Linked DNA regions of Homo sapiens: regions 2 and 3 are each reported to be linked to region 1. Evidence: microRNA targets listed by miRTarBase, many of them from high-throughput screens and not tested one by one. Region 1 holds a microRNA gene; each other region holds the end of a gene's coding sequence.
The links. Region 1 holds the annotated microRNA hsa-miR-143-5p (GGUGCAGUGCUGCAUCUCUGGU, at 1,682-1,703, shown strand). A microRNA usually pairs through its seed, bases 2 to 8, with sites in the 3' UTR of a target mRNA and lowers its output. Matches are read on the target gene's strand: a 7mer-m8 pairs with bases 2 to 8, a 7mer-A1 pairs with bases 2 to 7 and ends in A, and an 8mer does both.

Region 1 (5,075 bases):
GGGCCCAGAAAACAAAATGAATTATCTACATGGTCATCCAATCAGCCACCAAATGGCATTACCTAGGTCCATCATCATGTACCAAGCCACAGGTCAGACCCAGGGCCCCCCAAATTAACAAGACACAGGCACTGTCCTCAGGAAGTGGAGATCTAGCCAGGTCAGACCCACACACAAATAACACTGATACTAGAGATAATGAGATTGGGAATTATGATTCAGCCATTCAACCTGGGCTTATGTGGCATCTACACCACCTGGCCCTGATTTCAGTAGTGAGCACAGTTGACAGGGTCCCTTCCCTTCACAGGTGAGCCATGTAGTCCACAAGTGGAGGTGGTCGTAAGTGAAAACCACATTACCAGCATGGTAAAGGGTTAGAAAGAGGGCACCGGGTGGGCGAGAACATGAAGCAGGGGGTGCTGATGGCTAAAGAAGTAAAGGAGGGGCTGGGCACTGTGGTTCATGCCTATAATCCCAGCACTTTGGGAGACCAAGGCGGGTGGATCACCTGAGGTCAGGAGTTCTAGACCAGCCTGGGCAACGTGGTGAAACCCTGTCTCTACTAAAAATACAAAAATTAGCCAGGCATGGTGGTGCACGCCTGTAGTCCCAGCTACTTGGGAGGCTGGGGCATGAGAATTGCTTTAACCCGGAAGGTGGAGTTTGCAGTGAGCCGAGATCGTGTCACTGCACTCCAGCCTGGGCGACAGAGGGAGACTCTGTCTCAAAAAAAAAAAAAAGTCAAGGAGGGTTTCCCAGAGTGGCCACTTGATTAGAGACCTAGCACAGGAGGAAGAGATGGGCAGGGAGAGTGACGGGGAGCAGCACAGTCCCTGGGAGCCCGAAGTGGGTGGGCACAGGGCTCCCTAGGAGAATGGAAGGACATCTATGAGCTGTAGCCCAAGAGGAAGAGGTCACTGGGGCTAGATGCGGCAGACCCTCGCAGGCTTTGGGAAGGGCTTCAGAATTCAGCCTGAGGGCAATGGGGAGCCCTTTTGGGATATTAAACTTGAGTAAGATATGAGCATATTTGCATCTTGAAAAATCATTATGGGAAGATGGCTGGGAAGAGAGGAGGAGTGGCAGAAGAAAGATAGGTTGGAGACAATTGATTGCTCGATGATATAAAATGTTAAGTACCATGAATGATGCTGTTAGGCTGGAATGCGCCAAGCATAAAGGTGGGGCATGGCATCAAAAGGTAGGTCAACATATTAAATAATTCCATGTATTGAAATATCCAGAAAATATATAGACAGATCTATAGAGATAGAAACTGGTCTGCCCAGGACTAGGGGTTGTCTAAGGATAAGGAGCTTCTTTTTTGGATGGTGAAATAACCTAAAATATATTGTGCCATTGTTTGCACAACTTTGTGAATATATTAAAAACCTGTTAATTGTACTCACTAAATGTCCTCCTTCTAAATTAAGCTGTTCTTGACAAGAAAAGGAAAGAAACAAAGAAAAGAAGAGAAAAAAGGTCAAGGTTTGGTCCTGGGTGCTCAAATGGCAGGCCACAGACAGGAAACACAGTTGTGAGGAATTACAACAGCCTCCCGGCCAGAGCTGGAGAGGTGGAGCCCAGGTCCCCTCTAACACCCCTTCTCCTGGCCAGGTTGGAGTCCCGCCACAGGCCACCAGAGCGGAGCAGCGCAGCGCCCTGTCTCCCAGCCTGAGGTGCAGTGCTGCATCTCTGGTCAGTTGGGAGTCTGAGATGAAGCACTGTAGCTCAGGAAGAGAGAAGTTGTTCTGCAGCCATCAGCCTGGAAGTGGTAAGTGCTGGGGGGTTGTGGGGGGCCATAACAGGAAGGACAGAGTGTTTCCAGACTCCATACTATCAGCCACTTGTGATGCTGGGGAAGTTCCTCTACACAAGTTCCCCTGGTGCCACGATCTGCTTCACGAGTCTGGGCATGTCCTGACTCCTCTGTGTACCCCAGTGTGTCCATCTTAGCATGAGGCGTTAGCATTTCCCCAGCACCCTGCCTCTGCTTTCTCTTTCTGAGCCCATGGCAGACACAGCTAATCAGTAAAGGCATATATTCTTTTTTTTTTGAGACACAGTCTCACTCCATCACCCAGGCTGGAGTGCAGTGGCATAATCTCAGCTCACTGCAACCTCCTCCTCCCAGGGTCAAGCAATTCTCGTGCCTCAGCCTCCCAAGTAGCTGAGATTACAGGTGTGCGCCACCACACCTGGCTAATTTTTGTATTTTTAGTAGAGATGGGGTTTCACTATGTTGGCCAGGCTGGTCTCAAACTCCTGACTTCAGGTGATCTGCCCGCCTCGGCCTCCCAAAGTGCTGGGATTACAGGCATGAGCCTCCACGCCCCGCCAGGCATCCATTCTTGAAGTGCTCAGATGCAGCTTCAGAATCCTCAACAATGAGCCCTGGAAAGCCACTAGTACTGATTCACAGCTGAAACTCATTCATCATTTGTGGATCAAACAATTCCTAAAAACCCTTTCAGCCCTGAAGATAAAAATTCTGGCCTTTGAGTCAGGGTCTTCACTCTGTACTTCTAACCTTGGCTCCGGGGTATTGCCGAAACCAGTCCAGGCACGTCACAAATGTCTGACTTCTCCCAGAGGCTTCAGAAGCACAATGAGCAGCAGAGGAGAGCCATGGAGCCAAGCACAGTCTCATTTAACCTCCCCAAAAGCTTGGGAAGTGGGTGGTGTTATAGCCCCATTTTACAGATGAGAAAAACTGAGGCTTATTTAAGCAGCTCACCTAAAGTCACATATTGATTGTGCTGAGCTGAGATTGTACCCTAATCTGCCTTCAAATCCATGTTTTTACCCATTGCATGTGATTATGGAACCTGGGACCGAGGAGCAGGAGGAGAACATTCTAAATTCTGCTCCCATCTTGTCTTTACATCTCAGGTCACTTTTAGCAAAGACAGACCCGGACACTTGCCATTAATACTACAGGCTTCCTTCCTCCTACCCCCTTCCCCCAATCTTATTCATCTCACCTCTCCAGTAGGTCGTGGACTCATGCATTTTATAATTAAAGAAGGCCAAGGCTCAGGGGTTAAGTGACTTACTGGAGGTTATCAGAGAGGAAGTTGCCAAACCCAGGCTAGGAACTGAATGGTTGGTTTAAATCCACCCCTCTGGCAGGAGACTGGGGAATACACATGAGCCGTGCAGACAGCAGAGGGCAGTCCTGGGGGTGGGGGCGCCAGAGGGTTTCCGGTACTTTTCAGGGCAATTGAAGTTCCGGTCACTACTCCCCCCCAGAGCAATAAGCCACATCCGGCGACGTGTGGCACCCCACCCTGGCTGCTACAGATGGGGCTGGATGCAGAAGAGAACTCCAGCTGGTCCTTAGGGACACGGCGGCCTTGGCGCTGAAGGCCACTCGCTCCCACCTTGTCCTCACGGTCCAGTTTTCCCAGGAATCCCTTAGATGCTAAGATGGGGATTCCTGGAAATACTGTTCTTGAGGTCATGGTTTCACAGCTGGATTTGCCTCCTTCCCACCCCACAGTTGCCCCCCAATGGGGCCTCGGCTGGCTCACAGGATGAGGGTTCAAGAAGAAGGCTGTCCCTGGAGGTAAGAGGGCTTATGAACCATGTTCCAAACCTTTGCGTTGCTTTTCTTTCCATCGTGTCTATTTCATAACATCCCTGTGAGGCTGGATGTGGGAACTTCAGCACTGCCGTACTCTTGGGAAATTTGTCCAAGGCCACCCGGCTGAGCAGCGGTTGAACCAGGACACCATCAGGCATGCGTTTCTTGTCTCCACCACACCCTCAACCCACTTCCCAACGCGCCTTGCGACAGGGGCTGCGGTATTGCATCCACATGACTGATAAACTAGTAAACACACATGAATTCATTTTAAAAGTGTATTCAATCAGTTAGGTAAACTAAAAACCTTAAGTCTTCGTTCGATTTGGAATGCAGCCAGAGAACAAATGGAAAATTTTTCAAGGTAGAGAAGATGAAAACTCAGAACGCCCTCTTGTGGCATCTCTACCCACCCTAGGAACACTATGGCTCTTCCCCTACACATGGTGATTGCTAACCTTGCTACAAGACGTTGGACACACACACACACACACACACACACACACACACACTGAGGTTCCTTTTGCCCCCTCACTTTTGAGCCAGTGACTACTGAAACCCTCTCCATTGTTGCACCACCAGCAATGCCCCCATCACTTCCTCTCATTTACTTCCACAGGCTGGTTCATCCTCAAAGCCCTCCTTACGTAGATCTGTGGGATCAGTGAGGCTCAGAGAGGTAAAGTGGCCAGCCCAAGGTCGCCCAGACAGCAAAAGGCAGGGCCAGCGCTGATTTCAAGTCCAATGGCCTATGGCAATTTCTTAGCCAAAAGCAAAATCTACAAAAATAAAAAGTCAGGCACAGTGGTGAGTGCCTACAGTCCCAGCTACTGAGGAGGCCGACGGGGGAGGACCACTTGAGCTTGGGAGTTCCTGGCTGCAGAGAGCTATGATTGTGCCTGTGAATAGCCAATGCACTCCAGCCTGAGCAAGATAGGGAGACCCTGTCTCTAAAAAATACCTAAATAATTTTAAAAGTCAGCCTCTCTGACTGCCTATAGAGAATGCTAACTAACTGAATGACAGAAGACCTAATGTAATCCAGGTGCAAAATCAGAACTTTCCGGCCGGGCGCGGTGGCTCACACCTGTAATCCCAACACTTTGGGAGGCCCAGGCGGGTGGATCACGAGGTCAGGAGTTCAAGACCGGCCTGCCCAACATGGCAAAACCCCGTCTCTACTAAAAATACAAAAAATTAGCTGGGCATGGTGGTGGCCACCTATAATCTCAGCTACTCAGGAGGCTGAGGCAGGAGAATTGCTTGGACCCGGGAGGCAGAGGTTGCAGTGAGCTGAGATCGCGCCACTGCACTCCAGCGTGGGGGACAAAAGCGAAACTCTGTCTCAAAAAAAAAAAAATTAGAACTTTCCCCGTACTCTTGCTAGGGCTTTTCATGGAGATGTAGAAATGGTAGTAAGTGCCAAGGCCCCAGAACCCTCATGTTTGGGTCCGACTCCCACATTGCCAGAGACTAGGCAGCTCAC
Region 2 (5,075 bases), not on the chromosome of region 1:
TTGTGAATTTTTTAGGATTTTCTATAAACAAGGCCTTTTCATCTGCAAAAGAGATAGTTTTATTTCTTTCTTTCCAATCTGGATGATTTTTATTTCTTTTCCTCATGACGAGAACCTCCAATACAATATTGAATAGAAGAGGTGAGAGTAGTCTTCTCTTATTCCTGATCTTTGAGGAACAGTTTTCAGTCATTCACCATTAACTCTGATATTCCTTGATGTCTTTGATCAGGTTGAGGAAATATTTCTACTCTTAGTTGAATATTTTTATCATGAAAAGATGTTGGGTAAATGTTTTTACATTGTTGCTTTTATTAAAATTTAACCTCAGGTTATTGATATTATAGATGAATAATTATTTTCAAAAATTTTGAGCACATACAGCAGTATCTAAAAAGCTTTTTTAGTCAAATTGTATTTGACAGGTTATTCCAGTTTTAATGATTAGAATTTTTTTTTTTTTAACATTTCACACTTAACCCTTCCCCCCCCCCATTTTTTTTTAATAGGAGTAACTTTATATATGGCTCATATTTGAGCAAAGAAGAAATTGCTTTCTCAGATCCCACTCCTGATGGAAAGCTGTTTGCAACACAGTACTGTGGCACTGGTCAATTTCTGGTATATAATTTTATTAATGGACAGAATAGCACGTAAAACAAATTCTTGCCTACACCACTAGAAGACATCTATTGAAGAGAATGGATTGGTTGCTGACTTTAACCAGGAACTAGGGCCATTTTTATTACAATGAACTCAGGACTGGCAACAACCATATGGTTGTTCCATTTTCATAAAATTGGAAACAATGCAGTAATAGCTTATTGTTTTGTTTTTTAAAGAAGATATTTTATTATCTTTTACAGAAATTTATGATTGATGTATTTTATCTATAGTTATTTAGACATGTTTACATGCAGCAGATAATTGTTCATAGTGGACTGAAAACTAATGCAAGGACTATGGTCTCAGTGATAAGTATATTTTGAAGTTCTTAATATGGAAATATACCAGTGTAGCTTGGTACTGTATTTTTTTATATTGATCTGCTGATACCAGTGATAGGCTTAAAGATTGTATTTTCACAGAGTGGAAACCAATTTTTTTAGTTATTGTTCAAGGAGGGTGCAATATTAAGTGTTTTGGAATTTGAAGCTAATTTTTAAAAGGCCTGAACTATACTTTGAAGAAACCCCTATAGAAAAGGAAAGCTCCAGCTAAATAGGAAGAATTAGAATATTGAGCTTTTTTTTCCTGATTTTTCTCTTTCCTATCTTTGATGGAAGGAGGAAGTAGAAAGTGGTAAAGAATTGAGGCTTTCCTTCTTGGAGAGCTGTAAATGACAAGCATTAGGAAAGGTACCCTCCTAGATTCATTATTCTTTCATTCTGGTTTCACTTTTAAAATAAATGGCAACTTGGCACACCTAGGCTGTTAACAAATCTCAAAGAGGTTTATAAAAACGTATAGAATACTTGGAAGCAAAGTATGGATGACTCGGTATCTGCTTTGTTATTCCTCAGAAATACTGCACTGAGTATATGCCCTCATTACTGGACTTCATTTTGATACTTGTCTATCCTTCATAGTGCCCTCTACTTTTAAAGGGTTTATATGTTGAAAAACTGCTGTGGCCTTTTATGACCTGTATATAATGTAGAATAAAAATAATAAAATACTTGATAGCTTTTTCTAAGTGACCAATGTACTAACTGAGAATAATGGTGTGTTGTCATTTGTGCTTTTTCAGGGTGTTTTTTTGGTTTGATATCTTGAAATATGATTAAAACATTGGCTTCCTAAAGGCAGTTTCCACCAGTTTGCCAAAGGATCATTGTGTCAGCAGCAAATCAGCTGAACTTTATTTCCAAAGGCAAAATCCTTTCTGATTATTTTAGTAACATAGTACTTTTATGATGTTGCAAATAAATGAAGGGCCCACAGCCCAAGAATGAATTACCACTGTGGTTCAACTTAGGTTATTTTTGTGAGCTGAAATGATCATATCTCAGTTGAAAACTGGCTAAAATTTAGGGCCTTAAATTAACAGGTATACATTTTATTTCCCTATAAATTTTTGCTTTTACAATTTCTAGGCCAGGCGCGGTGGCTCACGCCTATAATCCCAGGACTTTGGAAGGCTGAGGCGGGCGGATCACGAGGTCAGGAGTTCGAGACCAGCCTGACCAATATGGTGAAATCCCGTCTCTACTAAAAATACAAAAATTAGCTGGTTTTGGTGGCATGCACCTGTAATCCCAGCTGCTCAGGAGGCTAAGGCAGGACAATAGCTGGAACCTGGGAGGTGGAGATTGCAGTGAGCAGAGATTGCACCATTGTACTCCAGCCTGAGCAAAAAGAGCAAAAAACTCCACCTCAAAAAAAAATTTTTTTTTCTAGAGTGGTATAAGACTCTACATTTTGTATGGGTAGAATGATAGGGCACGGTAAATATTTCCCCGTGATTCATCAAGCTGGTCTAGCTTTTTTTTTTTTTTTTTTTTTTTTTTGAGACAGAGGCTCACTCTGTCACCCAGGCTGGAGTGCAATGGCATGACCTCAGCTCACTGCAACCTCCACCTCCTAGGCTCAAGCGATTCTCCTGCCTCAGCCTCCAGAGTAGCTGGGATTACAGGCACCTGCCACCACGGCCGGCTAATTTGTTTTTGTATTTTTTAGTAGAAACAGGGTTTCACCACATTGGCCAGGCTGGTCTTGAACTCCTGACCTCACGTGGTCCACCTGCCTCGGCCTCGCAAAGTGCTGAGATTATAGGTGTGAGCCACTGCACCTGGCCCTAGCTTTTGATACTGTCATTTCCCTTTGGGCTTGAGACTGTTCTAGTCAATCCTGGTCTCATTGTTTGCCTGACAGGTACCATGATTTAAAAAAAAAAAAAAAAAACAGAATGAAATTTTGGGATATAGTGTAGACTCTCTAGTAACTGTTAATCCCATAATACAGGTCCAATTTCCATAAACAATAGTATACTACTTTGACTACTTTTGACTTGGTTTCAAGGTGACCTGGAGGTGGAAGAGGGTATATTGGGTGGTTGGTTTATATGTTATTATTACTGAGAAACCAGTTTATTTTCATGTTTATACTGAAGATATAGCCTCCCAAATTTTACAATTTAGGTATTTCTCTAAGAATAGTATTATTAGTTAATACCTAACATTTGAGTGTTTGCTATGTGTCAGACCCTGTGTGTTTAGTCCTGCATTATTTTATGTAATCATTACGACAGTCCTATGAGGTAGGGTTTATAATTGAGGAATCTGGAACTTAGATGATAATTAAGAGCCGTTTGTGTGAAAAGTGTTGAAACACTGAACTAAAGCTGTGATGTGGAGATGAAGACGAGACAGATACACATTGAAAAGATAAAATTGAAGAATTGACACAGTTGAATTGATAGGAATTTATAAACAACCAGAAAAAGATCATGGCAAAGAGGTTAAGGTAAGTGGGAATTTTGGTTTGGGTAATTGAATTAGATTGACAGATGGGAATACAGGGGAATTAGGTTGGGAGGATTGGATGGGGATGTCCTCAGTTTTGGTCAAGATTTTAAGGTGGTTGTAGAAAGAGTCTCTTAAGTGGAGAAACCTTTTAGTATACAATTGGATATGTGAATCTAGAGTTTCAGAAAGGTTCTAACTGAGAAACAAATTTATGAGTTCACTTATTTATTTGAAGGTTCACAAGGTCACCCTGGGGTTTGTAAAATGAGAAGGTAGAAGAGAGTTGTGAGGTACACCATCATTTAAGAGTCTCAAAGAAGACTGCCTAAGAAGGCATGAGCAGCAAGGTAGGAGAGCCAGAAGAGAGTGGTAGAAACCAAGGGAAAAATGTCAAGAATCAAAGAATGATCAACCCTGTCATACCACAGTTGAAGACTGAAGAGAGCCCAAGTGATGTTAGGAAAAGAGCAGTCTCAGTGGAGTGGTGGAGGCAGCAGGGACACGGTGAGTGTACACTAATGGCCACAGACTGTAGAAGAGGGTGAGTCTGTAATTGCTGACTATATAAAGGTGCTTATAGATTTTTTGTTAGCAGCCCTCATGTAGTTGTTGGTTGTTTATAAAAATATCTAGCATAGAGACATGGTAAGAGCCACAAATATAGTCAGGAACTACAAGATTTTATGGGCGATGCTTTTATCTGCATGGACACACAGATAAAAAGCAGTATTTTACTACTTCATAATATGCAAGAGTGAACTTGGTTTATCTACTGAAAGCCTGACTGTTGTAAGGACAGTCAGTGAGTACAACAAACCTGCAGTGTTATTTTAATTGTTCTTGTTTACTTTGCACGGCTGCCCAGCTATAGAGTCTTATCCTTCTGGATGGGAACACAGCTGTATTCCTGCCCATCCACATTGCAGCTAGGGTTGAGATTGCTGAGTGAGTTGATTTCTAGGGTAGTGACTCTAGACATACATTTTCTTTCTCATGGCTCCTGAGTCTTTAGGCAGAAAAAGGGATGAGTTCTGTCTTTTAGCAACCCCCCACCCCCACCCTTCTGGTAAAAATAAAATACACTGGACTAGTAAAAATAAAATATGTGGAATGAAGTGGTCAGAAAAGAACTTACTGGTGTTGCCTTTTTTTTTTTTTTTTAACTTAATACCATCATCTATTGTCATAGTCACTGAAGTAGATGCTTTAACTCAACAACACTTGATAGTTGAGAGCACAGTGAATTTATTATGTGAATGACTTTTTCTTTGGCCTTAGCGGCAATTCCTAAAGTCATCTTTAGCAGTATTTTTACTGTTGTTGTTTTGTTTTCAGTGAAGCCAAGGTTTCAGTGTTAGAGTAGTATTCTCCTAGACTCAGAGGAAGCTTTAAGGGCCAATTTCCAGTTTCTGTGTCTAAAGAGAAGCTTGATAAATGTTCGTTCTCTGGATGTTGTTTCAGGCCTAAGTAGTTTAGTGTGATGTTGCAGCAGTCAGTTTCACAGTTAATTAATAGTCTTTTCAAGGCAGCTGCTTTGGAATGTATAGTGGAACACCAGTAGTCTTTACTTTCCTCTGAAAGTCTGTCATTACACTTACAAATATTTAT
Region 3 (5,075 bases), not on the chromosome of region 1:
CCACCACCACGACAGCCAGGAGCTGCCCCAGCCCCCTTACAGTTCTCCTATCAGACTTGTGAGCTGCCAAGCGCTGCTTCCCCTGCGCCAGACTATCCCACTCCCTGTCAGTATCCTGTGGATGGAGCCCAGCAGAGCGACCTAACGGGGCCAGACTGTCCCAGAAGCCCAGGACTGCAAGAGGCCCCCTCCAGCTACGACCCACTAGCCCTCTCTGAGCTACCTGGACTCTTTGATTGTGAAATGCTAGACGCTGTGGATCCACAACACAACGGGTATGTCCTGGTGAATTAGTCTCAGCACAGGAATTGAGGTGGGTCAGGTGAAGGAAGAGTGTATGTTCCTATTTTTATTCCAGCCTTTTAAATTTAAAGCTTATTTTCTTGCCCTCTCCCTAACGGGGAGAAATCGAGCCACCCAACTGGAATCAGAGGGTCTGGCTGGGGTGGATGTTGCTTCCTCCTGGTTCTGCCCCACCACAAAGTTTTCTGTGGCAAGTGCTGGAACATAGTTGTAGGCTGAGGCTCCTGCCCTTCGGTCGAGTGGAGCAAGCTCTCGAGGGCAGCACTGACAAATGTGTTCCTAAGAAGACATTCAGACCCAGGTGTTATGCAGGATTACATCCGTTTATTATCAAGGGCAACCTTGGTGAAAGCAGAAAGGGTGTGTGCTATTGCATATATATGGGGGAAAAGGCAATATATTTTTCACTGAAGCTGAGCAACCACATATTGCTACAAGGCAAATCAAGAAGACATCAGGAAATCAGATGCACAGGAAATAAAGGAAAGCTGTGCTTTGTCATTGAATCCTAAGTTCTTAGCTGCTGATGCAAGTTGTCCCCCAAGGCCATCACAAAGCAGTGGGGCATGAGCTGTGTTTCAGGGGCCACTAAATAACAGCTGGTACTGACCCCAGAAACCGCCTTCATCTCCATTCGGAAGCAGGTGACACACCCCTTCAGAAGGTGCCCTGGGTTGCCGAGTGTCAGAATATACTCAGGACTCCAGAGGTGTCACACGTGGAACTGACAGGAGACCCGCCACCGTGGAGGCAGGGGGCAAGAAACTCAAGAACGCATCAAGAGCACCAGCCCTGGGCCAGGGAAGACAGGCTCTTCCTGCAGTTTCTCGTGGACACTGCTGGCTTGCGGGCAGTCGGTCTCCAGGGTACCTGTTGTCTCTTTTCCGATGTAATAACTACTTTGACCTTACACTATATGTTGCTAGTAGTTTATTGAGCTTTGTATATTTGGACAGTTTCATATAGGGCTTAGAGATTTTAAGGACATGATAAATGAACTTTTCTGTCCCATGTGAAGTGGTAGTGCGGTGCCTTTCCCCCAGATCATGCTTTAATTCTTTCTTTTCTGTAGAAACCAACAGTTTCCATTTATGTCAATGCTAAATCCAAAGTCACTTCAGAGTTTGTTTTCCACCATGTGGGAATCAGCATTCTTAATTTCGTTAAAGTTTTGACTTGTAATGAAATGTTCAAGTATTACAGCAATATTCAAAGAAAGAACCACAGATGTGTTAACCATTTAAGCAGATCATCTGCCAAACATTATATTACTAATAAAACTTAACCAACACTTACAATTCAGTCATCAAAGTAAGTAAAAATTAGATGCTACAGCTAGCTAACTGTATCCCTAGAAATGATGAATAATTTGCCATTTGGACAGTTAACATCCAGGTGTTACAAAGTCAGTGTTAATTCTAAAGATGATCATTTCTGCCCTTTAGAATGGCTTGTCCCATCAGCAGATGAATGTGTTAAGCACAAAGCATCTTCCTTAAAGCACAAAGAGAGGGACTAACTGATGCTGCATCTAGAAAACACCTTTAAGTTGCCTTTCCTCTTTGTAGTTAGCGTTCAGGCAGGTGACGTGTGGAAAGTCTAGGGGGTTCCATTCTGGCCATGCGAGCCCAGCTCCTACCAACGTCGGTAACTTGAGCAGTCCCTGTTGCTGGCCAGAGACTGCCTGGTCGCCAGCGCTCACCATGGGTGCCAGGATGCTTCGCAGAGGCACTGTGCTCACGGTTGGACTTGGTGTCAGTGGGAAAGGGCAGTGTGGGGACTGTCATTTTTGTGATTTAATAACACACAGTGAAAATCCAGGAAGAATGAATTAAGCTTCTTCTGGGAGTTGTTTATTCCTGCTCGTGCTTAAGATTGATGATTTCGTGAAATAAAGAACATCATTTCATTTAAGAGATCATTTCATTAAGATCTCTAATCTGTTTTGAGTCTTTACAAAATAGCCAGTTATAAAATGGGGCTTGATTTGTTTAGACTGAAGGAAGACGTTTTCCCAAAATATACTACAGAAGTGCTACAATATTTGCGATATTAAAATGCCTGCAGATTGAAAATGGGGGCCACTCATTTCAGAACTGCAGGAATGGTGTAGTTACAGATCGACATAAACTCCTGCCCCCCAACAATGCCATGAGCTGCTTAGCCCAGGAGACCTGGGAGCTATGGCAGGACGGTTAGGCCAGCCGATGAGGGACTGCAGAGAGGCTACTGGAAGGTTAAGGACCCAGAGAGAAATCGAGAGGTGCCCTACAGCAGCCAGGCCTATCAGGATCCGTCACACACGGCAGCGGCGTGGACACCGGCCTGATGCAGAGCGTGACCCCTCCTGCTGGGACCTGTGTTGTAAGCTCCTATTTGCTTATCTTGTTTATTTCAAGCAGAAATCAATAAATTCCATAACCCTCTGTATTGACTGCAATGTAAGCTGCTGAGGAGACTGGTTCTGTTGGTCAGTCAGGTGTTTGCTCAGCCCTGTCTGATCACCTGTGCTGCTCTGTCCCTAACTAGTGACCCATGGAAGCTTCCAAGCAGTTTTCTCTTCATCACTACTAACAAACAAAACACTAAGAAGGCTTAGTATCGCTCTTTTTCTGCGGGGCTACTCTGAAGTACTGACTTGCTTTCCAGTCTGATTCACGTTAGCAGTGTGTACACTACTGTATCATCATCAGCTTCATCACCCTGTAAACCAGGCTCCTCTGAAGAGACTTTGGTGAGATGAACGTGAGGTAAAAATTTCGTTCGGCAAAAAGTGCAATATGTGTGGTACTTTATTTTTTATGTTCTTTTTTTAAATCTGGGGTATTAGTCTGTGCTTTGGGAGAAATGCACTAGCTCTGCAATTCCCAGCTGGGCAAGTGTGTCTCTAGTATCTCCACGCAACTGATACACTGGTCCCTGTAAGGCAAACAGCATGTTAGCCCGACAGGAAGAGGGGGCCCACTTTCACATTCCCGGTGACACTGACCGTCCCCAGCTGCCCCCTCGCCACCTCTGCCTGCACTGCCTTCTGTCACCGTGGGAAAAGGAGGCTGATGGTTCTCTACACCATCCACCTTGAGAATCCCTGCGTGGGAGAGCATCAGGGCCCACCAGGGGAGTGGGGATGGGGCTCAGGGGCTGTTCATGCCCATCTGAGCAAACCCCTTCTCTCTTCCATCCACTTTTGCCTCCTAGGAAAGAAAAAGTCAGTGGCCCTTTCTTCCTCAGATATCAAGAACTCCCAAGTGTTTAAACCGTATGCTGGAGTCAGTGGTTGGGACAGACAGGAGCCCAAGACTGAAGCCAGCCCTTGCCTCTTGTGTCCCTTCCCAACTCTGGTGCTGGAGTAATGGGGTGCTCTGCATTTTGATGGGGAGCAAGGGGGGACCCCCCCTGTAGGAGTATCGGCCTCTCCCCTGCCCCCTACCCTCTCTCGTGGACCAAAGTCTCCAGCAGAAGAGACTCATCATAAGACTGACGACTCCCCCACCTCCACCCACACACCGAGTGTCATCAGTCCTAAAGGCAGGGAAACGCTCACAGAATTCTGCCCACGGGTTAGATGTGGGGAGAAGGATATTCTCAGCTCCAGAGTGATTAGGTGATCAGCCAGAAACTAAGGCAAGGTGACAAGCAGCAGCCTGGAGTCACAGTTGGTCCCAGGCGTGTGGGCACTAAGCAGCCTCTGGAGACATGCGGGCAGTTGAGGATGCAAGGACACAGTGAGTGAGTGGCGCTCCTTTTTGGGGTCCTCCAGCCTCTAGTCAAGCCCCAGGTTCGTAAATATGTTTGTATTACATTTTAAAACCTGTATCAACAGTCACATTTAAGCTCCCTATTGGTTTAAAGAAAATTCATACTCCAGGTAACTTTTTCCCATTCGACCTCCTATAGAGACAATATGCAGTGTGTCATTTCACAGTCTCAGTCCCTGTGAACAGTGGCTGACACCGGTGCCAGGGCTGACCTGCTACACTCAAACTCCTAAACTGGGCTGCCTCTAACTGCCTCCTGGGAAGCCACCCGAGCCACTCGGTCTCTTTGTGCCTAAACATGAAAGGTGAAAATTGGAGAACAGGGAAGCTCGTAAGTTGGAGTCATTGTACAGGCAGGGATCTTTGATCATTTTGTTGCTTCTGGAATTTATTTAATTTTTTTTTTTTTTGAGACAGAGTCTCGCTCTGTCACCCAGGCTGGAATGCAGTGGCGTGATTTCAGCTCACTGCAACCTCCACCTCCTGGGTTCAAGCCATTCTCCTGCCTCAGCCTCCCAAGTAGCTGGGACTACAGGTGTGTGCTACCGCATCCAGCTAGTTTGTATATTTTTAGTAGAGATGGGGTTTCACCATGTTGTCCAGGCTGATCTTGAACTCCTGACCTCAGGTGACCCACCCACCTTGGCCTCCCAAAGTACTGGGATTACAGGTGTGAGCCACCACACCCGACCTGGAATTTTTTTATAGAACTTATCTTCAGAGCAATGTATGAAAGACAAGAGCAGTATCAGCCGGGCGCGGTGGCTCACGCCTGTAATCCCAACACTTTGGGAGGCCAAGGCAGGCGGATCACGAGGTCAGGAGATTGAGACCATCCTAACACAGTGAAACGCCGTCTCTACTAAAAATACAAAAAATTAGCCGGGCGTGGTGGTGGGCGCCTGTAGTTCCAGCTACTCGGGAGGCTGAGGCAGGAGAATGGCGTGAACCCGGGAGGTGGAGCTTGCAGTGAGCCAAGATCGTGCCACTGCACTCCAGCCTGGGCGACAGAGC

Region 2: miRTarBase lists ESCO1 as a target of hsa-miR-143-5p. Seed matches in the 3' UTR shown: 7mer-m8 at 1,528-1,534.
Region 3: the mRNA of SIK2 is a reported target of hsa-miR-143-5p. Seed matches in the 3' UTR shown: 7mer-m8 at 5,049-5,055.

What each region holds. Positions count from the first base shown.
Region 1 is chr5:149,427,263-149,432,337 of GRCh38, forward strand. MIR143 (microRNA 143) reads left to right here and starts at 1,656; the gene lies at 1,656-1,761. CARMN (cardiac mesoderm enhancer-associated non-coding RNA) reads left to right here. Exons shown (of 5, transcript NR_105060.1): 4 at 1,621-1,777. It overlaps MIR145 (microRNA 145), which reads left to right and starts at 3,384; the gene lies at 3,384-3,471. RefSeq lists an enhancer at 3,724-4,018.
Region 2 is chr18:21,525,925-21,530,999 of GRCh38, reverse strand. It overlaps ESCO1 (establishment of sister chromatid cohesion N-acetyltransferase 1), which reads left to right. Exons shown (of 12, transcript NM_052911.3): 12 at 510-1,716. The coding sequence ends at 657. GREB1L (GREB1 like retinoic acid receptor coactivator) reads right to left here. Exons shown (of 33, transcript NM_001142966.3): 33 at 4,888-5,075. Among named protein-coding and RNA genes, the nearest start is that of ESCO1, 72 kb to the left of the region's middle.
Region 3 is chr11:111,723,836-111,728,910 of GRCh38, forward strand. It overlaps SIK2 (salt inducible kinase 2), which reads left to right. Exons shown (of 15, transcript NM_015191.3): 15 at 1-5,075. The coding sequence ends at 294. It also overlaps a transcript of PPP2R1B not described here. Among named protein-coding and RNA genes, the nearest start is that of PPP2R1B, 40 kb to the right of the region's middle. RefSeq lists an enhancer at 1-7.